Linked DNA regions of Homo sapiens: all the other regions are linked to region 1. Evidence: fine-mapped expression QTL. A gene starts in region 1. Each other region holds a variant in brackets. All regions are shown on one strand. Distances are between the middles of the regions.

Evidence for each region. PIP is the estimated chance that this variant, and not a neighbour inherited with it, causes the effect.
Region 2: its variant is the best candidate, but not a certain one, in a credible set for the expression of KBTBD2 in whole blood (TOPMed, PIP 0.55).
Region 3: its variant is the best candidate, but not a certain one, in a credible set for the expression of KBTBD2 in whole blood (INTERVAL, PIP 0.70).

The regions. Positions count from the first base shown.
Region 1 is chr7:32,888,304-32,896,484 of GRCh38, forward strand. It overlaps KBTBD2 (kelch repeat and BTB domain containing 2), which reads right to left and starts at 3,457. Exons shown (of 4, transcript NM_015483.3): 1 at 3,233-3,457. RefSeq lists enhancers at 457-982, 3,538-4,241, 3,947-4,006 and a silencer at 2,817-3,766.
Region 2 is chr7:32,910,232-32,918,412 of GRCh38, forward strand. It overlaps the pseudogene RP9P. Among named protein-coding and RNA genes, the nearest start is that of KBTBD2, 23 kb to the left of the region's middle. The variant C/T (reference allele first, on the strand shown) is at 4,071.
Region 3 is chr7:32,835,761-32,843,941 of GRCh38, forward strand. It overlaps the pseudogene DPY19L1P2. Among named protein-coding and RNA genes, the nearest start is that of KBTBD2, 52 kb to the right of the region's middle. The variant T/A (reference allele first, on the strand shown) is at 4,514.

The DNA of each region.
Region 1 (8,181 bases):
TCAGTGTAAAAAACTAAATGAGAGTCCAGAAAGGCACCAGTCATAAAACAAGCCTTTCTTTATTTCAATGAGATAGTTTTCTCCTTAGGAAGGACAAGAGATGGGTGCTAGAAACAGTTTGCTTTCAAGTTATCAAAACAACCACGACAGTTGAGAATGTCTGGAAAAGACCATTTGTTTTTTAGATTGTCAACTGCTACACAAACAGAATTTTCTGGAGTTGTGACAGGCATCAATTAAAAAACAAACCAAAAAAAAACAAAAAAACCAAAAAAACAAACACCTGGCCTTTTGAAGAATCTATCAAGTTTTAAAAATTTCAGCATACTTGCAGTGAGCCGAGATCGCATCACTGCACTCCAGCCTGGGCGACACAGCGAGACTCCGTCCCAAAAAAAAAAAAAAAAAAATTTCAGCATAGCTTCCTCTGCTCTAGTCACATTCAGAGCTTAGGTCTGTTCTCTCTTTCCAACCATACTGATAGATGACATGGCTCCATCAGGTTAATTACGCTCAGCACCCTAAGTAAATTCAGGTCACAAGTACAAGCTGTACTATATTATGATTAACAAGTTATCTCAGTTTTAAAAAATTAAACAAGAACATAAAGGCAATGCCACCTGCGATACAATAATCATATGAGTATACTATGTCCTTTTATTTTGGGTATCACTTTTCCTTTTTCCTCTCACCTCTGCGCAGTGACTTAAGAAAGCTGGGGAAAAGTGGCCAGGCGCAATGGCTCACACCAGTAAATCCCAGCACTTTGGGAGGCCGAGGCGGGCAGATCACCAGGTCAGGAGATCGAGACCATCCTGGCTAACACGGTGAAACCCCATCTCTACTAAAAATACAAAAATTAGCCCAGCGTGGGCTACTCAGGAAGCTGAGGCAGGAGAATGGCGTGAACCCGGGAGGCGGAGCTTGCAGTGAGCCAAGATCGCGCCACCGCACTCCAGCCTGGGCGACACAGCGAGACTCCGTCTCTTAAAAAAAAAAAAAAAATTACTTGAGATCGGCCGTCTGCGGTAGCTCACGCCTGTAATCCCAGCACTTTGGAAGGCCGAGGTGAGGGGATCACGAGGTCAGGAGCTCGAGACCAGCCTGACCAACATGGTGAACCCTCATCTCTACTAAAAATACAAAAATTAGCCAGGCCTGGTGGGGCGCGCCTGTAATCCCAGCTACTCAGGAGGCTGAAGCAGGAGAATCACTTGAACCCTGAAGGCGGAGGTTGCAGTGAGCCGAGATCGTGACACTGCACACCAGCCTGAGTGACAAGAGACTCTGTCTCAAAAAAAAATTACTTGAGATCAACCTGTCATTTCTAATACTGAGTTATTTAAGTATCAGTTGGTCTATTCAAACTCTACAAAACTGAAAAGATTAAGCTAACAAAGGACTTTGAAATTTTCACTCATATTTTATGACACCAGGATCAATCCTTTTTCCTGGCCTTACTTGTCTTAGGAATGTGGGCAAAGAGAAGAGGGGAAGGGGGACTCTTTTCTAAATGTGTAACATTTTTGGAAAAACCAATGTTATCATTTGGCTTTTAAGACTGCATTCAAGTTTCTAGGAATTCACCTTGCACATTCAATGTTCAATGTTTAGGAATGAAAAGCTCAACATTTCTACCAACCAGAAGAAAATCTATGGAGGAGCATGGACATATGTACTGATACCTCTATTCCTTCCCATCTCCTTACATGCCCTGTGAATAACATAAGTTAACATTTTATAATGCTTCTTATGAGAGCAAAAAGGGGAGTAGAGTTACAGCACTCATAAAGTCTTCCTACAAAACTGTGCAAAGAAAACACCACTATGTGGAAACGTGTGGACTACAGAGCATGCTCAACAGAAAGGCCACAGCACTCCCGAGTTACTGACAGAAAACAACCTCTTGAGGATTCCAGGCCCCAACCTAAAAGGGCTTCAATAAGCACTAAGCCAACAGAAGATCAAAGTGAAGAAGTAAGCTTAACATTAGTTATCAGCCAGATGGAAAGAATAGCAAAATTCCACATCATCGAGATTAGAAAACAACCGACTGGCTTTTCAATTTACTTTAGATCAGAAAAAAAAGTCGGGGAAAAAAGTCCTTATCAAAGGTTAACCAAACTAAGTCATTCACAATTACAAGAGATCTAAGACCCATACTACTCAAATTCGGCAAAAATGTACAACTCAGAGGGAAGAGGGGGAAGATCCCTGTTAATTAGTTGCCTCGATAAAAGAAAATATCATTTTGGTCAGTGCACAGCGTTGATAGGGTTTCGTTTCTCAATGCCTAAATGCTGTGAGCCCGACGTACAGATTCAAGTATAAACAACACGTGACCAGTCCTGTTGCCTACGTCTTCATAAGGCTAATTGACACAGAAGATAGTTCACACACACACCCTTTTAAAGTTCATTTTGTATTTTGAATTCTTTTCCTATTTTCACTGGAAGGGGTCACCGTGGTAGCCCGTGGGATGGACGCTCCTCTACCTTTTGAGGCAGGTAGAGTTCTTAGATAGCTAAGCCCAAGGGAAAAAAAGATGTTAACTCAAAATAACCGCCCCACACCAAACTAAGCGATTTTTCTATTCCCCGGTTGTTCAATCCGTAGGGAGAAGGAGGTGGTCGAATTCAAGGAAGTTAAAGATTTCACAAAGTAAACACGTACACAATTTTCCGTTTCAAAGGGCAGTTTCTGCTTTCTTTTTTAAGTCGATATAGACCATAACAGGAGCTCTGTTCGTCTAGACCTCTCTTGGTTAGTTCAGATGTACGCGGGGGGAATACAGAAGGAAGGGGGTGTCCTCCTTCGGCCCACCATGTCGCGAACACGTCGCGAGTCTTTAAGGGAAACAGCTTTACTTCGGTAAGGGCGGGCGCGAGCCGAGGCCAAGGCGCCGCCCGGGAGCCCCGCGGGCGCCGAGGCGCCCGGTGCCGGGGCCGGAAACGCCCAGCTAGCGGCGTACCGGGCCGCCCCTTCCCCGCGGACCTGCCCGGAGCTCCGCCGCCCTGGGGCCGCCGCGGGGTGCGGAGGGCGGCGCCGGCCGCCCGCGCCCCTCCCCCGCCCGCGGCGGAAGCGTCTCGGGTTTGAAAGATGCCGCGGCCGCCGCCTCCCACCCGCCGAGCCACAAAGGGCCGAGCCCCCTCCCGCCACAGCCCTCCTCCCCGGCCCCTCCACAGGTCGCCGCGGGCTCCCAGCCTGCCCGGCGCTACTGTCGCCTGCTCACCCGCGTCCCTCGGTCCGGAGGTGTGGGATCCGCTCCAGCCGGTGGCCCCGTCCACACTGGGCCCCTCCGGCGCGGCGGCGGGGGCGTGGCCCTCCCGCCGCGGCCTCGCCTGGGGTCTCGCCTCCGCCTCCGGCCGAGGAAGGCTGGCGCCGCCGCCTCTTCCTTCCGGTTTCCCCTCGCACCCTCCCTCGCTTGGTCCGTCCAGCGCGGAAAGCAGCGTCCTCTGCGGGCGCCGCCGCACGCTCCTCAGGGCCCGACCACCGCCAGACTCCTCCCCCGGGAGCCGCGCCGCCCGCCCGCCCGCGCCGCCTTGTCAGTCCGGGGCCGCGAGACGCCGGGCCCGCCGCCCCCGCCGCCCCCGCCCCCGCCCCCGCCGCGCGCTCTCGCCCCCGCCCGCGGCCCGGGAACGCGCGCGCAATGGACCGCTGGCCAGCCTGCCGCGCCCGCCCTCGCCACGCCGCCCTCCCGCCTCGCGCGCGCGCGCGCCTGTCGGCACCAGCGGCAGTTTTGCAGTTTCCCGGGTCCTCGCGACCGTCCCCCGCCCCTCCCTTACTCTAGCTGCCCCCGCCCTTTTCCTCTGCCGGATGCCACCGGAAAGCCAAAACAATTGGGGCCGCGCAGGCGCGAAAGAGGAAACGGAAAGAGCAGGAAGGGCGGGGGCGGCGCGAGGTGACGGGAAGCGTAATTGAAGGGGGTTCCCGGGAAAGGTCATGGGAGAGCCCTTGAGGGGCGCGTGCGCGGCAGAGGGGCACTCCGAGTAGCCGCGGCGGCCGAGGCCTTGGGCCTAGACGGGCGGATGGAGAGGCCCGACAAGTTCATTGCTAGGAAATCTAGAGAGCAAAACACCAATTGTTATGCTGAAGGAGGTGTTTTATCCCTTGGAATTTCCCCTGAAATACAGATTTTTGCAGGCTGGCTCGGAAAGTGGGAATGAGTAGGACTAAACAATACCAGACCGGGGGCAGGAGAAAGTTGAGGAGGCGTTGGGCGGGTCGCTTTGTTGCCGCAGCACCTCTTCTCCAAACCATGCCCTCCTCTCTCCAGAGCCGCTTCGGCTTTTCCCAAGGCCAAGGAAGAAGTCAGAGCAGCACCCAAAAGGGCCCGCAGTTGGGGGAGGTTAGGGGAAAAGGGAGAGAGAGACATCTGGGTGCGGACGGCAGCTCCAGCGTCTGAAGCCTTCCGTTGTGTGCTGCAATGCGGCGGCTGCACGCCCCCAACCCCCCGAGTTCCAAAAGAGCGCCTTCAGCGTTGCTTCGCAAAGCGAAGCGTTTGTAGCAGCAGCTAATGGCTGTGGCCCGTACTGTTTTAGTTAACTTGGCACAGCTTGCTGGCAGGCAGGCTGTAAATTTGCTAGGAGCTATTCGTGGATCAAAAAATTGTCAGAAATGCCCACACAGACTCCACCTACCTTCCTAACTTACAGTCTTGGCACAAGCCCAATCTAGAGAATATAGATGACTAATTATAATCTGAAAGGCCATACAGTACATTACTGAAGGGAGCCTCTTCCTGTAAACTAGGCTAGATCAACTGAATGCACACCAAGATGCGTGTTATCAGGAACTACTGATAAAGGATTGTTTTACTGTAGAATCTGGAAACTACATTCAACAAATCTTCATTGAGTTTCCAGCATGCTACCACTGTACTTAGTCTAATTAAGTAGTTAAGTGGTATGATATCAAACAAGCTATACAAAAGATTAAAGTCATTTAACACACACTTGAGCACCTACTTTGTGCCAGATTGGGTATGAGAGATGCGGTCTAAACATGCAGACAACAACAACAAATGATACCTGCGGCAAGGAGTTCGTGATTCATCCTGTGGGCAACAAAAAGCCACTTAAGATTTTTAAGCAGGAGAATATCTTGATAAGATTTTAGAGAAAAAATTCTAAAGCATGATAGATAGCAGACTGGAAGCAGGGATACTAGTTAGGACGCTGTTAATGCAGTCCAGACATGAGTTGGAGAGAAAGTCCAAACTAACAGTGTCAGTGAGAATGGAGAAGCAGAGATACATTTGAAAACTAGCCAGCTATGATAAATAAGACTTGATTACCTAGAGGATGAGGGGAAATAAGAAATCAAGGATAACTGAGTTTTTTAGTTAGGGTGATTAGATGGTGTTATCAGTGACTATAAGAGGAGTAATGAATTGTGAGGATGAAAGAGAGGACTAAAGTTGTCCTTTTAATGGCTGTACAGTTAGGAATGCATTTGGGCCCACATTTTTTTCGAAAAGATTCCATTATAATAGCTTAAACAAGACCTCAAATCTACAGGTAGGCAGTTACCTTTGTTGGTTCAATAGCTCAAGAACAGCAGGGCCATCATTTCTGTGATTCTCTCGACATTGACTTCATGGTTGCAATATGGCTGCAGCAGTTTTAGCCTTCGCACCTTTGTTCAAGGCAAGAAGAGGGGAAAGGGGGTGGCTTCCACCATCCATGGTCTTTTTTTTCTTCAGGAAAGTGAAAGCTTTCTCAGGATACTACATCTCCCAAACTCAGCAGACTTCCACAAACATCTCATTGTCTAGAATTGTAATTTGGCCACCTATAAAGATTACAAAAGAGAAAAACACTGGGAATGGATATTGGGTCAGACAAGTCAGACAAATAGCAGTCGGCTAGTTAGTTAATATTTAAAGCATCCTTCTTTAACACTTAAAACCCTGAGAGCTGTTAGGATGGATTGATGTTCCTAGGTTTCAAAAAAGGCCAATCGCTTTGGTGTGTTATCTTAACTGGGAAAAGAACAGGTTGAACATTTATACTCAAATAGTTGTAGTTGTTTGCCATCCCTTATCTCAAGGTTCCCATCCCCTTAAACAAAGTCTCACAGGGGACTGGAACAATGAGGAAGAAGGGACTGGTGCAGTCAGGGGAGGGTGACTCCCGTTCAGCTTTCCTTTTGCAGCTGCCATCTTAGAATAACTGTAGGTTCTTGGCATCGTTAATTTGATGTTCCGCCTAAAACACCATCTTAATTCCCTTAGAGATCTTGTCTCTGAGCTTAGAAGGCTCTGAGTGATCACAGCAAGTTCCAGTGTCCATTTTAGGGAGTCATACATCAGTATCTTCTAGCAGTTACACAAACTCTTTTGGAATGTACAGCATCTCTCTTGTGATCTGTATCCAAAACATTATTTCATGCAACCCTTTTCCATTAACAAGGCATCTTTCCTTTTAATTATTAATAAGTCATCTTTCCTTTCAACTGATGGCCACAAAAAGTATCATCCTAAAACTGTACTTTAAACATTGTTATGATTCTAGAACAGAAAGAAGATAGTAATGATTCCTAGAAAAATAAACATGCAGCCGGGCACAGGTGGTTCACGCCTGTAATCCCAGCACTTTGGGAGGCCGAGGCGGGGGGATCACCTGATGTCAGGAGTTTGAGACCAGCCTGGCCAACATGGTGAAACCCCATCTCTACTAAAAATACAAAAATTAGCTGGCCGTGGTGGTCGGCACTTGTAATCCCAGCTACTCGGGAGGCTGAGGCAGTAGAATGACCACCACGCCTAGCTAATTTTTGTATTTTTTGTGTAGAGGGGTCTCGCCATGTTGCCCAGTCTGCATTTTCTTTTTCTGAGACAGGGTCTCACTCTGTCGCCCAGGCTGGAGTGCAGTGGTGTGATCGCAGCTCACTGCAGCCTCGAACTCCCAGGCTCAAGTGATCCTCCCACCTCCGCCCCCCAATTGGCTGGGACTACAGGCATGTGCCACCACACCCAGGTAATTTTTAAAAATTTTTTGTAGAGATAGGATCTTGCTACATTGCCCATGCTGGTCTCGAACCCCTGGCCTCAAGCAACCCTCTGGCCTCAGCCTCCCATAATGCTGGAATTACAGATGTGAGCCTCTATGCCCCACCCAGAGTCTATGATCTTAACCACTCTGCTTTACTGACTTCTGTCCTCCTACCAAATTGCTTCCCAGCATCACTTCAAATCTTAGGAACTGCCATATTATCTCAGCAATATAGTTTAAGTAGTATGAGCAGAAAGGAAAAGGGGGTGATTTTTCTTCTCCCTTCTCTCTTCTAATCAGGTAGGAAAAATATGTCTCAGAATCCCGAACAGAGTACCCCTGATGTCTTCTTGGCCAGGATAATGAGATTGTTGTTATGGTCTCCAGTCATTAGTTGGGAGAGAGAGAGGAAAGAGTTCCCCTTTCTCTGAGCACATTCCTTTTTTTTTTTCCTTCAATCTGGACAACATCTTCGTTCTCTCAGCAAGGAAGAAGTAGATGAGACCACCAACCATGTTTCCCACAAAGACAATCAAACCATGAGACCCACATAGGAAATGGAAGTGTATAAGCACCAAACTGAGTTTTATCCTCAATCTGCCATTCAGTAGCTGTATGATTCTGGCAAGTTATTTAACCTATCTGAACCTGGTCATATTATGCTGAATGAATGAGGACCGGGTGCAGGTAGCTCATGCCTGTAACCCCAGCACTTTGGGAGGCAGAGGTCAGCAGATCACTTGAGGTCAGGAGTTCGAGACCAGCCTGGCCAACATGGTGAAATGCCATCTCTACTAAAAATACAAAAAAAATTAGGTGGGCGTGGTGGCAGGTGCCTGTAAGCCCACCTACTTGGGAGGCTGAGGCAGGAGAATCACTTGAATCTGGGAGGTGGAGGTTGTAGTGAGCAGAGATCGTGCTACTGCACTCCAGCCTGGGCAACAGAGGGAGACTCCATCTCAAAAAAAAAAAAAAAAAAGAAGGAATGAGGATTCAAGACAGTGTAACAAAGTGCGTAGCACATAGTAAGCATTTATTAAAAACAGTTTTTAATATCATATTCTTTTTCACATGTTAAACATAGAATTACCATATTATCCAATAATTCCATTTCTAGGTATGTTGACCTAAAAAAATAGAGACAAATCTCTAAATTTAAAACATTTTATGTAGGAAGCAAGGATTG
Region 2 (8,181 bases), 22 kb after region 1:
TAGTTACTTCAATGGACTGGGGCTGTCTTTACAGTAGGAAGACATCAGGACTCTAGAAGGTTGGAAAAAATTGACAGTAGGTGGATAAGAAGCACAAAAATAGAATGGGGCCAATCAGTGGATACTTCTGCTTTGTAGTTCTGCCCATAGTTGGACCTTTGTCCTAGAGGCTAGATGAAAAGTCTGGTTATGTTTGGAAGCTGTTGGACTCCTGTGGCAGGTTGCATGTGTGGGGACAAGACTCTGAGACGGAGATTGTGGGAAAATTCACATTGGTGTTCTTGGGAATAACATCTCAGAGGGCAAAGGGAATGTGATTGGGCAGAGGGAGAAGTTGGGCTCTGAGACAATCACAACAAAGGCCTCAGCCATTCCCACCTAGGGCTTTCTTGCCAGTAACAGGGACTACAGGAATGTGCCAACAGAGCTGGCCAATTTTTTTATTTATTGTAGAGATGGGCTCTTGCTATACTGCCCAGCCTGGTGTCAAAACTTGTGGCCTCAAATAGTTGACTATTTTAGATTCATCTTGTAAGTGGTATCATGGGGTATTTGGCCTTTCGTGTCTGGCTTATCTCACTTTGTATAATGTCCTTTGGGTTCATCCATGTTGTCATAAATGGCTAGATTTGCTTCTATTTTAAGGTAAAGGATATTCCATTATACATGGATAGACCACATTTTCTTTCTCCATTCACTCATCATGGATGTGTAGTTTGCTTGCATGTCAGTGCTACTGTGAATAAAGCTGCACTGAACCTGAGTACAAATCTCTTCAAGATTGATTTCAATTCCTTCTGATATATACCCAGAAGTGGGATTGCTGGATCATATGGTAATTCTAGTTTTAATTTGTTGAGAAACTTCTATACTGTTTTCTACAGTGCTCACACCACTTTACTTTCCCATCAACAGTGTCTAAGGGCTCTTTCCTCACGTCCTAACCAACATTTGTTATCTTTTGGGTTTTCTTCTTTTTTCTTTTTTTTTGAGACCTAGTCTCGCTCTGTCGCCCAGGCTGGAATGCAGTGGTGCCATCTCGGCTCACTGCAAGCTCCGCCTCCTGGGTTCACACCATTCTCCTGCCTCAGCCTCCTGAGTAGCTGGGACTACAGGTGCCCGCCACCACGCCTGGCTAATTTTATGTATTTTTAGTAGAGACAGGGTTTCATGGTGTCAGCCAGGATGGTCTGGATCTTCTGACCTCGTGATCCGCCTGCCTCAGCCTCCCAAAGTGCCAGGATTACAGGCGTGAGCCACCGTGCCCGGCCTGGGTTTTTTTTTTAAACAGTCATTCTAACAGGTATGAGGTGATATTTCCTTATTATTTTGATTTGCATTTGCCTAATGATTACTGCTGTTGAGCACCTCTGCATATACCTGCTGGTCATTCTTCTTTGGAATCAATGTCTATTCAGTTTTTTGCTTTTTTTTTTTTTTTTTGAGACAGAGTCTCACTCTGTCACCCGGGCTGGAGTGCAGTGGCACAATCTCAGCTCACTGCAACCTCTGCCTCCTGGGTTCAAGCAATTCTTCCGCCTCAGCCTCCTAAGCATCTGGGACTACAAGGCGCACACCACCATACCCGGCTAATTTTTGTACTCTTAGTAGAGATAGGGTTTCACTATAATGATCAGGCTGATCTCAAAGTCCTAACCTCAGGTGATCCACCCACCTCGGCCTCCCAAAGTGCTGGGATTACAGGTGTGAGGCACCGCATCCGGCTCTTTGCCTATTTTTTAAATTTTATTTTTTGAGACAGGGTCTTGGTCTGTTGCCTCAGCTGGAGTGCAGTGGTGCAATCATGTCTCTCACTGCAGCCTCTAACTCCTGGCCCTTTGCCTATTGTTATAATAAACAGGTCATCTGGTTGTTTGCTATTGAGTTGTAGGAGTTTATTATATTTTGTAGATATTAACCCATGATTAGATTTATGGTTTGCAAACATTTTCTCCCTTTCCATGTATTGCCTTTTTGTTTTGTTGATGTTTCCTTTGCTGTGCAGAAGCTTTTTAGCTTGATGCAATCCCACTTGTCTATTTGTGCTTTTGTTACCTGTGCCTTCAATGTCATATCCAAGAAGCCACTGCCAAGGCCAATGTAGTCTATTCCCTGTTTTCTCCTACGAGTTTTACAGTTTCAGATTTTAGTTTAAGTCCTTAAACCATTTTGAGCAGATTTTTGTGTATAGTGTAAGATAAGGGACCAATTTTTTTTTGCAGGTGCATATTCAAATACAATTTTAGTTGCTACCACTGGAGGATGTACTAGTAGCATCAAGTGGTTACAAGCCAGGGATGCCACACAATACCCTACAATGCACAGAATCGAACCCTACCACTTAGAATTATTCAGTTCCTAAAATAAATGAGTCCGAGGTTGACAAAACGGCTGTAAAGGAGAGAAAAGTGCTAGATAGAGACATGGGATCAAGGGAGGATTTTATTTTTTTCAGAGACAGGGTCTCACTCTGTTGCCCAGGCTGGAGTGCAGCAGTGCCCTCATAGCCCACTGTAACCTCAAACTTCTGGGCTCAAATGGTCCTCCTGCCTTGGCCTACAAAAGTGCTGGGATTACAGGCATGAGCCACTGTGCGTGGCCTCCGGATTTTTTTTTTTCTTTTAAAGGGAGACTTGAGCTTGTTTAAATGCTGCTGGATAGGGAAATGGGCCACTTTATATACTGTAAGAGAATGGATAAATTGGTAGACTCTTTTGGAGGGTAATTTGGTAGAATCTGTCAAACTTAAAATATGTAATTCCATTATTAGGTAACTATTCTATTGAAATACTTGCATACATACATTAAGATATTTACTCAAGGCAAGGTGCGGTGGCTCACGCCTGTAATCCCAGCACTTTGGGAGGCCAAGGTGGGCGGATCACGAGGTCAGGAGATCGAGACCATCCTGGCTAACAGAGTGAAACTCCGTCTCTACTAGAAATACAAAAAATTAGCCAGGTGTGGTGGCGGGCGCCTATAGTCCCAGCTACTTGGGAGGCTGAGGCAGGAGAATGGCGTGAACCCGGGAGGTGGAGCTTGCAGTGAGCCGAGATCGTGCCACTGCCCTCCAGCCTGAGTGACACAGCGAGACTCTGTCTCAAAAAAAAAAAAAAAAAAAAAAAAACCCCAAAGATATTTACTCAAAAATTTTTATTTTCAGTCTTCTTTGTAGGAATGAGAAATGGGAAAGAATTGCATTCTGATAAATAGATTAATGGTTAAACAAATCATGGCACATTCAAACCAAGGAATTTTGTAGCCATTTGAAGCTTGTAGTGAGCAGTAAAATTGCCAACATACGGTGAGTGAAATGAAGTCACAGAACAGTATTACTAGTGTCTATCAGTTATGTAAAGCTAACCAAAAACCGTGCATTTACATGTGTGTGTTTGCTAATGCATTTTGATCAGGATCTGGAGCACTGTATCAAAGCATCATAAGTAGACTCCCTTTTCACTTTTTGTTCTCCAATGGCTCAGAATTGTGAACTCTTTACGGGCATGTATTTTACAGTTTTAAAACAATTGTTTTTTGTTTTTTTTTTTTGGTGGGGTTTGGGGAGCAGGGTCTCACTCTGTTGCCCAGGCTGGAGTGCAGTGGCATAATTTCTGCTCACTGCAACCTCCGCCTCCCAGGTTCAAGTGATTCTCCTGCCTCAGCCTCCCGAGTAGCTGGGATTACAGGTGTGTATCACCATGCCCAGCTAATTTTTGTATTTTTGATAGACATGGGGTTTCACCATGTTGGCCAGGCTGGTCTCAAACTCTTGACCTCAAGTGATCCACCTACCTCGACCTCCCAGTGTTGAGATTACAGGCATGAGCCAAAACAATTTTTAAATACTGGGGCAAGATCACAATAGAAAGGAAGAGTTTGAAGACGTGAGTGACATGGGATAAAGGAGGAGGAAGTTCCCTGAGGATTAGATGATGGTGACAGCAGTAGCAGCAGGAGCAGGTAACATTCATTTAGAGTTGAGATGTGCCACACCCTGCTCTAAATGCTTTATGGATATCAAGTCCCCTTATTCTCACTAGAAGTCTGGTAGACATGATTAGTCAAGGACA[C/T]GGAGGCACAGAGAGGTGGAGCAACTCCACAGCTAGCAAAGCTGGGATTCAAAGCCAGGCAGTCTGGATGCAGGGCCAGTGCTCCAGCCACTGCCCCCTACTGCTGGCTGTTGGTGGGATCCAGAGCATAGGTGATGGACTGGCCTGAGAGGAGGAGGGAAAGCTCATTAAACCTCTGGATCAGTTTGTTGCTGCATTAACACTTTCTCACAAATGTAAAAGCTCAAAACCACCACCACTGATTACCTCACAGTGGTGTAGGTCAGAAGCCTGAGCAGGCTCAACTGGGTTCTCGACCTTGCATCTCACAAACCCCAACCGAAGATGTCAGCAGAGGTGGGCTTCCATCTGGAGGCTCTGGGTAAGAATATGCATCCAGAACCATTGAGGGTGGCAGAATGCGGATCTTTTCAGCTGTAGGACTGAGAGCTCCATTTCCTTGCTGGCTGTTAGTCAGGAACCTTTGATGAGAGTTTGCTGCATCCCTCACCATGTGGCCCCTTCAACTCTAAAACCAGTAATGATGCGTGGAATCTTTCACAGGCTTGGACTCTCTGACCTCCTCTTTGGTTAACAGCCAGGGACAAATCGAGTTCCAGAGGGTTCTCATGATTTGGTTAGGAACACCCAGGTGGTCTCCCTTTCCTTGTACTGGTAACACAATCTAGTCACAGGAGTAAAGTGCATCCTATTAACAGTCTGAAGATTAGTGGGAGAAATCATGATGCCATTTTAGCCTGGGTAATTTATAAAGAAAAGACACCTGCCTGGCTCAAGGTTCTGCAGACAGTACGAGAAGTGTGGTGCTGGAATATCTTTCCGGTGAGGCCTCAAGAAGTTTACAGTCACGGTGGAAGGCAATGAGGAGCCAGCATATCACATGGTGACAGCAACAGCCAGAGCAAAAGAGGGAGGGAGAGGTGCCACTCACACTTAAACAACCAGATCTGGTGTGAACTGACTCATCACCAAGGGGATGGCACTAACCCATTCATGAGGGATCTGCCCCCATCATCCAGACACCTCCCACCAGGCCTCATCTCCAACACTGGGGATTACATTTCATCATGAGATTTGGAGCGGACAAACATCCAAACCATATCAGTAGGATGTCTGACATTCATCATACGATGTCTGAGTGAAGGGAGGTTTAAGGGCTTATTTTGTCTCCCTGGATAGTAATGGAAAATGTATATCTGAAAGAGATGTCTGAAAAAGAAAGTTTAAGTGGGTGGCTAGCACACTTCTGGTTTGCTAGTGGGCTTTTTGAGCTCAGTTCTCATTTGAGTTTGGAGATGGATTTGTAGGGGCTCTGGGATTTTTCCCCTGTAGTCTGTCTATAGGAGCAAAGCGGAAGATTTTGATTGATGCTTCTTTGGGGAAAGCTGGACAAAAGGATCACAGATCAGGGGAGATGACAGGCCAAAGTGATGTTCCTTGGAATCTAGGCTAGAAACAGAGGAGAAAAAAACAGAGTGAGGGAAAAGGGACGATTCACTTTGCAAGGGCTACAGGGGTGGACGGCTGGATTCCAGTTAAAGCAGGAAGTGGAAGAAGGCTTCAGTAAGAGGGTAGAGATCTAGAGCCCAGGTTCTCCAAGTGGGGTCCCCAAATCAACAGTGTCAGCATCATTTGTTAGCAAGGCAGATTCCCAGGTTCACCTCAGACCTAGGGAATGGAAAATTCTGGAAGTTGGTGAGTCGAGCACAGGAATCTGCATCTTAAGCATGCTAGTTGATTTGGATGTCTTGGAGGTTTGAGAATCATTGATGCAGCATCTTTTGTGTTGTATAAGAATGCTTTTATCATGAATGGGATTGCAGAGGGACAGTAGCCAATTCCTGGAAGAAGAGGACCGGCTGTACCTGGGTAAGAAATGCTGAGCATATGGCAGAGGACAGATGGCCTGTGTTCTGCATGACAAGGATAAGTGTAAGGCAAGGCTGAATCCACTGGCCTTACAGTTTTCAGAAATAGTTAAGTCCTGGCCATTCCAATCTCAACCGATTGTTTTCCTGAGGTGGTATTCCGAGGCCAAGAACAGGAGCATTGACTGATGAGACTTGAAGAAGGGTCAGTCTGGGCCTGGCTTGGCTGTTCCTTAAAAAGGAGGGAATCCAAACCCCAGGAAAAGTGGCAGAAAATGGGAGTGAGTTTCTGGGACCCTGACTGAGTGCCTAAAGCAGCAAGAGACCAGTGCTAGCCACAGAGGGACACACTTGCCTATGAGCAAGATCCGCTTCACTTTGGCGCAGCAAAGGATAGACTTCCTCTCCTCCAGCTGCAGACACACCCTGGCCTCCTGAGATGCCTCTACTGTGGCCTAGTTTCAGCTACAAGAGCACAGGTGGGCTGTGGTCAGGCAACAGGAAGAGGAAGAAAGGGAGGGATGGATTTTGGGATGTGGATACCTGACCTAGTACACAAATCCCCCTATATTCCTAAACCTTTTCTGAGTCAGTCACTCTGTGAAAATCATGGGACTCTGGCAGTAGAAAGCAAGTGAAGTAGAATGCAGCCACAGAAGATTTTTTATTGTTGTTTTAAGAACTCCCTAGCCCCCAAATCAACAAATCATGTCAGGTAAATATAAATATTTTAGCCAACCAGTGGCTCTCGCCTGTAATCCCAATGCTTTGGGAGGCCAAGGTGGAAGGATCACATGAGGCCAAGTGTTCAAGTCTACACTGTGGAGGGCACAAGCTGTGGGAGGGCCTGGAAGACACGCCTCAGAGATTCTCCCAGTCCTGCCACCCTGTGGGAGACACTTCTAAGGAATCGTAAACTCATGTGACCAGCAGGGAGGACAACGATGAAGAAACTTTCCTGCCTAAAATCAGCTGCTGTCCAGAGCTAGCACCTGGAAGGAGACACTCCCTCTCCTGGGGTCACATCTTCACTGCAAGGCGGGTGGGAGCTCACTGCTGTGACCCACATATACTCCTCTCTCGGCGTCTCTATCCTGCTACTTTCTCTGACTGCATCTTCCTCTGTTCCTTGGTCAGTGTTTGAGAAGAGAATGTTGAACAAGTCACATCCTTGTCACTCTGAGTCAGAACCCTCATTTGACTTGGAAGATTTGTGCTTCCGTTTTTTCTTCTTTTTCTTTTCTTTCTTCCTTTTCTTATGCTTTTCTTTCTTCTTCTTTTTCTTGTGTTTCTCTTTACCTTCAGAGGAACTGGAGCTGCTCCTATCTTCACCTGAGGTAGAATCCTCCAGTAACTGTTTTAACTGCTGTATCCTAAACATTCAAAATTGATCAAAGAACAGTCAGTTTTAGCTTTAACTTACAACAGTTGCTTAGATAAATATGTCATTCAAAAGCAATATGGAAGGATCATGAATAACCACATCACAAAGACAGTACTTATTTTTATTTTTACCTGTTTTCTCCATTCTTCTTCACCTGAATGCCTATGTTTATGTGACTGTAACCAGTGTACAAACCATTTTTGTATTCTTTTCCTTGTCCTAGTCATTTCTGTAGGTTCCCACAGTACTTACAATTATAAATTCTAACAGACGCATACTTTACTAAACCATTCCCCAACTGCTCAATTTCCTAATAGATAATCTACACCCTCAACAATTATAATTTAATGTAACCAGTTTGAAAAAACAAACTCTCCTGATTATTCACTCTCTAATCTTGTCTAGGTATAATCTTTAACAAAAGCTGAGATCCTTAAGACGTTAGAGGAGATAAACTGAATTACCTTGCATGGTACCAATTGTACCATGCAAGTAAATAGCACAACATGGGTGGCTAATATCAACTGCAGTGGTCAGAGAACTGGACCAAGCCTACAGCTTTAAGCTAACCCAAGGAGGAGGAGGCTGGCCTGCTGATTCCCCAACACTGGTCTTGTCAGCCATGACTCCTACCCAATAAATATTTCACAATTGAAGTGCCATGTTTACTATATCACTCTCCTAGTGCTAGAAGGTTTTTTTCCAACTTTATATAAGTTAAAACTTTAAATAGATACTATCACCAGGACAACCTCACCTTACATTCTTTTCATGTTGTTTATTGTCTCGTATGATGTCATACATGAAATCCTCATGTGCCTTAAGGGACAGAGAAGGTTAAGGTTTGGTTAGGCTTCAT
Region 3 (8,181 bases), 53 kb before region 1:
TCAGTCAAGCCCAAATTTCTTCCTCATCAGTTACCTATCTTGGCTTCTCATAAAAACACATGTGCCCTCCCTGCCGATCATGTCCACCTGATCTCTTAAAACCCAGCACTTTCTACAAAACAACAATTCCTTTCCTTCCTAGGCATGGTTGGATACTTTCAACTTTAGATGCCTGGTTTTGCCATTCTAAAACCATTTTATAAACTCACAAAAGGAAACCTAGCTGACCCCATAGATCCTAAATCCTTTCCCCACTCCTTTCCGTTCCTTGAAGACAGCTTTAGAGACTGCCCCCACTCTAGCTCTCCCTGACTCATCCCAACCCTTTTCATTACACACTGCTGAAGTGCAGGGCTGTGCAGTCAGAATTCTTACACAAGGACCAGGATGGCATCCTGTAGCCTTTTTGTCCAAACAACTTGACCTTATTGTTTTAAGCTGGCCATTATGTCTCCATGCAGTGGCTGCTGCCGCTCTAATACTTTTAAAGGCCCTTAAAATCACAAACTATGCTCAACTCACTCTCTACAGCTCTCATAATTTCCAAAATCTATTTTCTTCCTCACACCTGACGCATATACTTTCTGCTCCCTGGCTCCTTCAGCTGTACTCACTCTTTGCTGTGTCTCCCACAATTACCATTGTTCCTGGCCCGGACTTCAATCCAGCCTCCCACATTATTCCTGATACCACACCTGACCCTCATGACTGCATCTCTCTGATCCACCTGACGTTCACCCCATTTCCCCACATTTCCTTCTTCCCTGTTTCTCACCCTGATCACACTTGGTTTATTGATGGCAGTTCCACCAGGCCTAATTGCCACACACCAGCAAAGGCAGGCTATGCTGTAGCACAAGCCACTAGCCCGCCTCTTAAAACCTCTCATTTCCTTTCCATTGTAGAAAACTGTCCTCAAGGAAATAACTTCTCAGTGTTCCATCTGCTATTCTACTACTCCTCAAGGATTATTCAGGCCCCCTCCCTTCCCTACACATCAAGCTTAAGGATTTGCCCCCACCCAGGACTGGCAAATTAGCTTTACTCAACATGCCCTGAGTCACAAAAACTAAAATACCTCTTAGTCTAAGTAGACACTTTCACTAGATAGGTAGAGGCCTTTCCTACAGGGTCTGAGAAGGCCACCACAGACATTTCTTCCCTTCTGTCAGACATAATTCCTCAGTTTAGCCTTCCCACCTCTATACAGTCTGATAACAGACCAGCCTTTATTAGTCAAATCAGCCAAGCAGTTTTTCAGACTCTTAGTATTCAGTGAAACCTTTATATCCCTTACAGTCCTCAGTCTTCAGGAAAAGTAGAACATACTAAAGGTCTTTTAAAAACACACCTTACCAAGCTCAGCCACCAACTTAAAAAGGAATAGACAATACTTTTACCACTTTCCCTTCTCAGAATTCAGGCCTGTCCTCAGAATGCTACAAAGTACAGCCCATTTGAGCTCCCATATAGATGCTCCTTTTTATTAGGCCCCAGTATCATTCCAGACACCAGACCAACTTGGACTGTGCCCCAAAAAACTTGTCATCCCTACTGTCTTCTGTCTAGTCATACTCCTATTCACTGTTCTCAGCTACTCATACGTGCCCTGCTCTTGTTTACACTGCCAGTTTACACTGTTTCTCCAAGCCATCACAGCTGATATCTCCTGGTGCTAGCCCCAAACCGCCACTCTTAACTCTTATAGTAAATAAATAATCTTTGCAGGCAAGGCTATGCTGAACCTCCTTAGGCACTCTCTAATTAGATGTCCTAGGTCCTCCCAATTCTTAGTCCTTTAATACCTGTTTTTCTCCTTGTCTTATTCCATTTAGTTTTTCAATTCATACAAAACTGTATCCAGGTCATCACCAATAATTCTAAATGACAAATGTTTCTTCTAACAACCCCACAATATCACCCCTTACCACAAAATCTTCCTTCAGCTTAATCTCTCCCACTCTAGGTTCCCACGCCACCCCTAATCCCGCTCAAAGAAGCCCTGAGAAACATCGCCCATTATCTCTCCATACCACCCCCAAAAATTTTTGCCGTCCCAACACTTTACCACTATTTCATTTTATTTTTCTTATTAATATAAGAAGACAGGAATGTCAGGTCTCTGAGCCCAAGCTAAGCCATCGTATCCCCTGTGACCTGCATGTACACATCCAGATGGTGGGTTCCTGCCTTAACTGATGACATTCCACCACAAAAGAAGTGAAAATGGCCTGTTCCTGCCTTAACTGATGACATTGTCTTGTGAAATTCCTTCTCCTGGCTCATCCTGGCTCAAAAGCTCCCCAACTGAGTACCTTGTGACCCCCACTCCTGCCCACCGGAGAAAAACCCCCCTTTTTCCTTTACCTACCCCAATCCTACAGAAGGGCCCCACCCCATCTCCCTTCGCTGACTCTCTTTTCGGACTCAGCCCGCCTGCACCCAGGTGATTAAAAGCTTTATTGCTCACACAAAGCCTGTTTGTTGGTCTCTTCACATGGACGCGCATGAAAGCTACATGACAGGATTGTTTAAAAACTAAAGTAATTTAAGGGGAAAAAAGGAAATGAGATCAGGAATGTAAGAAGTGCCCTGCTTTCTCTGCAGTTATATAATGCATACTGATTTTTAACATGTACATTCATTTTTCTAGGCCTGGTTGCAGTATGCCTGAAATTTGGGATGTAGAAGATCCTGCCAATGCTGGGAAAACTCCCTTATGTAACCTCTTGGTGAAGGATTCCAAACCTCACTTCACCACTGTATTCCAGAACAGTGTTTACAAAGTCCTAGAAGTTGTAAAAGAATGACTGCTACATGACCTGCTGCCTACGGAGAACTACATCTCTAATGGTTTTAATGTTTTGCTAAGTCATGTGTTGTTCATATCCCAAAAACTTTTATAGGTAACTGTTTTCAAATAGAAAATGTTTTATTTGGTCAATTTGAATGTCATTCTAATTATAAAAATGACTCATACCTTTCATGCGCGTCCGTGTGAAGAGACCACCAAACAGGCTTTGTGTGAGCAACATGGCTGTTTATTTCACCTGGGTGCAGGTGGGCTGAGTCCAAAAAGAGAGTCAGCATAGGGAGATAAGGGTGGGGCCATTTTATAGGATTTGGGAAGGTAATGGAAAATTACAATCAAAGGGGGTTGTTCTCTGGTGGGCAGGGGTGGATCTCACAAAGTACATTCTCAAGTGTGGGGAGAATTACAAAGAACCTTCTTAAGGGTGGGGGAGATTACAAAGTACATTGATCAGTTAGGGTGGGGCAGGAACAAATCACAATGGTGGAATGTCATCAGTTAAGGCTGTTTTTACTTCTTTTGTGGATCTTCAGTTACTTTAGGCCATCTGAATGTATACGTGCAAGTCACAGGGGATGCGATGGCCTGGCCTGGGCTCAGAGGCCTGACATTCCTGCCTTCTTATATTAATAAGACAAATAAAACAAAATAGTGTTGAAGTGTTGGGGCGGCGAAAATTTTTGGGGGGTGGTATGGAGAGAGAATGGGTGATGTTTCTCAGGGCTGCTTCAAGCGGGATTAGGGGTGGCGTGGGAACCTAGAGTGGGAGAGATTAAGCTGAAGGGAGGTCTTGTGGTAAGGGGTGATATTGTGGGGATGTTAGAAGAAACATTTGTCGTATAGAATGATTGGTGATGGCCTGGATACGGTTTTGGATGAATTGAGCGAGCTTAATGTGTAGGGAAGGGAGGGGGCCTGAATAATCCCTGAGGAGTAGTAGAATAGCAGATGGAACACTGAGAAGTTATTTCCTTGAGGATAGATTTCCACGATGGAAAGGAAATGAGAGGTTCTAAGAGGCGGGATAGTGGCTTGTGCTATAGCATAGCCTGCCTTTGCTGGTGTGTGGCGATTAGGCCTGGTGGAACTGCCATCAATAAATCAAGCGTGATCAGGGTGAGGAACAGGAAAGAAGGAAATATGGGGAAATGGGGTGAATGTCAGGTGGATCAGAGAGATACAGTCATGGGGGTCAGGTGTGGTATCAGGAATAATGTGGGAGGCCAGATTGAAGTCCGGGCCAGGAACAATGGTAATTGTGGGACTTAACAAAGAGTGAGTACAGCTGAAGGAGCTGGGGAGCAGAAAGTATATGCGTCAGGTATAAGGAAGAAAAAGATTTCGGAAGTTATGAGAAATGTAGAGTGAGTTGAGCATAGTTTGTGATTTTTAGGGCCTCTAGAAGTATTAAAGCATCGGCAGCCGCTGCATGCAGACATGAGGGCTAGGCTAAAACAGTAAGGTCAAGTTGTTTGGACAGAAACGCTGCAGGGTGTGGTCCTGGCTCTTGTGTAAGAATTCTGACCATGCTAACCATGCCTAGGAAGGAAAGGAGTTGTTGTTTTGTAAGGGATTGAGGTTTGGGAGATTAATCGGACACGATCAGCAGGGAGAGCATGTGCGTTTTTATGAGAATTATGCTGAGATAGGTAACAGATGAGGATGAAATTTGGGCTTGACTGAAGTAATGGGGGCTGTCTG[T/A]GAAGCCTTGCGGCAGTACAGCCCAGGTAATTTGCTGAGCCTAATGGGTGTCAGGGTCAGTCTAAGTGAAGGCAAAGAGAGGCTGGGATGAAGGGTGCAAAGAAATAGTAAAGAAAGCATGTTTGAGATCCAGAACAGAATAATGGGTAATAGAGGGAGGTATTGAGGATAGGAGAATATATGGGTTGGGCACCATGGGGTGGATAGGCAAAACAATTTGGTTGATAAGGCGCAGATCCTGAACTAACTTGTAAGCCTTGTCTGGTTTTAGGACAGGTAAAATGGGGGAATGGTAAGGAGAGTTTATAGGTTTTAGAAGCCCATACTGTAGCAGGCGAGTGATAACAGGCTTTAATCCTTTTAAAGCATGCTGTGGGATGGGATATTGGCGTTGAGCAGGGTAAGGGTGATTCGATTTTAACGGGATGGTAATGGGCATGTGATCGGTTGCCAGGGAAGGAGTAGAGATGTCCCATATTTGTGGGTTAAGGTGGGGGGATATGAGAGGAAGATGCAAAGGAGGCTTTGGGCTGGGGAGAAGGGTGGCAATGAGATGCAGCTGTAGTCCAGGAATAGTCAGGGAAGCAGATAATTTGGTTAAAATATCTCGGCCTAATAAGGGAACTGGGCAGGTGGGGATAACTAAAAAAGAGTGCATAAGAGTGTTGTCCAAGTTGGCACCAGAGTGGGGGAGTTTTCAGGGGTTTTGAAGCTTGGCCGTCAATACCCACAACAGTTATGGAGGCAAGGGAAACAGGCCCTTGAAAAGAAGGTAATGTGGAGTGGGTAGCCTCCGTATTGATTAAGAAGGGGACGGACTTATCTTCCACTGTGAGAGTTACCCAAAGCTCGGCGTCCGTGATGGTCTACAGGGCTTCTGAGGCGATCGGGCAGCATGAGTCTTCAACCGCTAAGCCGAGAAGGAGTCAGTCAGAGAGCCTTGGGCCAGAGTTCCAGGGGCTCCGGGAGTGGCTGCCAGGTGAGTTGAACAGTCCGGTTTCCAGTGGGGTCCCACACAGATGGGACACGGCTTAGGAGGAATCCTGGGCTGCAGGCATTCCTTGGCCTGGTGGTCAGATTTCTGGCACTTGTAGCAAGCTCCTGGGGGAGGAGGTTCTGGAGGAACGCCTGGCCGCTGCGGTTCAGGCGTTTGGAAGTTCTTGTGTGCTGGAGATGTGGCTGGGATTTGTCTCACAGTGGAGGCAAGGAATTGCAACTTTTTTCTATTATTGTACACCTTGAACGCGAGGTTAATTAAATCCTGTTGTGGGGTTTGAGGGCCGGAATTTAATTTTTGGAGTTTTATTTAATGTCGGGAGCAGATTGGGTAATAAAATGTATATTGAGAATAAGATGGCCTTTTGACCTTTTAGTTTCTAGGGCTGTAAAGCATCTCAGGGTTGCTGCTGAACGAGCCATGAACTGGGCTGGGTTTTTATATTTGATGAAAAAGAGCCTAAACGCTTCTGATTTGGGATAAAGAAAAAGGAGCATGAACCTTGACTATGCCTTTGGCTCCAGCCACCTTTTTAAGAGTAAATTGCTGGGCAGGTGGGGGAGGGCTAGTCACAGAACGAAACTGTAAGCCGGACCAGGTGTGAGGAGGGGAGGCGATAAAAAGATTACAGGGTGGAGGAGCGGAGGCTGAGGAAGAATTGGGACCTAGCTTGGACTGGCGAGGAGGGGAGAGGTCAGATGGGTCTGTAGAAAAGGAAGATTAGAAACACTTGGTGATGCTTGGGGTTGGGACTGAGGTGACAGGCGGGAGGGAAAGAAGGAAGATTTGGGACGAGTTGCACTGGGCACAGAGACTAGGAAGGGACTGATGTGTAAAAGAATGCCTGGATGTCAGGCACCTCAGACCATTTGACCCTTTTACGACAAGGATTATTTAGATCTTGTAGGATGGAAAAATTCAAAGTGCCATTTTCCGGCTATTTGGAACTACTGTCGAGTTTGTATTGGGGCCAAGCGGTGTTGCAGAAGAAAATAAGGTGTTTAGGTTTTAGGTGAGGTGTAAGTTGAAGAGGTTTTAAGTTCTTGAGCACACAGGCTAAGGGAGAAGAGGGAGGAATGGAGGGTGGAAGGTTGCCTATATTGAAGGAAGCAAACCCAGAGAAAAGAGAACGTAGAGACATGAAGGGAAGGGGTTTGGGGGTTCTTTCCCCCTAGAAAAGCGGGACTTGCCACTAAGGGTGAAGGAGAAGGGGTTGAGGGGTACTTGCCCCTGCCCCAGGAAAGCAGAGAAGGGGTAGAGACAAGGAGAGAAGGGGTTGGGGTACTTGGCCATTCCCCAGGAAAGCAGAGAAGGGGTAGAGACAAGGAGAGAAGGGGTTGGGGTAATTGCCCTTTCCCCAGAAAAGTGGGACTTGCCGCTAAGGGTGAAGGACCAAGGCAGGCGTCCCTGCGTGGTCTGACACCCTTGAAACGTGGGTGTATAATCAGAGAGGCGTCCCTGCAATGATTAAACACCAAGGGAAGACTTCCTTCCCAGTCCGTGACCGGCGCCGGAGTTTTGGGTCCACGGATAAAACGTGTCTCTTTTGTCTCTACCAGAAAATGAAAGGAATTGAAATTAAGAGAAGGGAGAGATTGAAGTGTAGCACCAAGATTGAAAGGAGAAAGAGGTTGACGGATAGTGAAGGAAGTTGGAGAAGAGAGTAAAGAGAGGCCGCTTACCGGATTTGAAATTGGTGAGATGTTTCTTGGGCTGGTCTGTCTGAGGACCTGAGGTCGTAGGTGGATCTTTCTCATGGAGCAAAGAGCAGAAGGAGGGGGGATTGATCTCCCAAGGGAGGTCCCCCGATCCAAGTCACGGCACCAAATTTCATGCGCGTCCATGTGAAGAGACCACCAAACAGGCTTTGTGTGAGCAACATGGCTGTTTATTTCACCTGGGTGCAGGTGGGCTGAGTCCGAAAAGAGAGTCAGCATAGGGAGATAAGGGTGGGGCCGTTTTATAGGACTTGGGAAGGTAATGGAAAATTACAATCAAAGGGGGTTGTTCTCTGGTGGGCAGGGGTGGATCTCACAAAGTACATTCTCAAGTGTGGGGAGAATTACAAAGAACCTTCTTAAGGGTGGGGGAGATTACAAAGTACATTGATCAGTTAGGGTGGGGCAGGAACAAATCACAATGGTGGAATGTCATCAGTTAAGGCTGTTTTTACTTCTTTTGTGGATCTTCAGTTACTTTAGGCCATATGGATGTATATGTGCAAGTCACAGGGGATGCGATGGCCTGGCCTGGGCTCAGAGGCCTGACAATACCTTTATCAATTGGTTACTATTTCAATGCCCCCTTTAAAATTTGCTATGCAAATGAGTATATGCTTGTACTTGACTTCCATATTTGTGCTAAAGTGAGCAAAGTTATCTATATAAAGAAAACACAATGAGTTGTGACAAGGATGACGTGAAAATACAGGACAATTCTGACAATGTAGGGGCTGATTTTATAGTGTAAGAACTATTAATGCCCCTTGCTTCTTTTTTCTGCCTCTTGCTCTTGTCTTTTGGACATTTCAGTGATTGTAAGTTCTTCGGTCATGTCAGCCCCTGTCATCAACTTGAGTTACAGTAGATGGGGCAGACATGGAGTGTTTGCTTTGCGGAACTATCTGTCTGTTTTGCTTCCTTGTGCTCTTTTTGTTCTCTGTTCTCCTGTT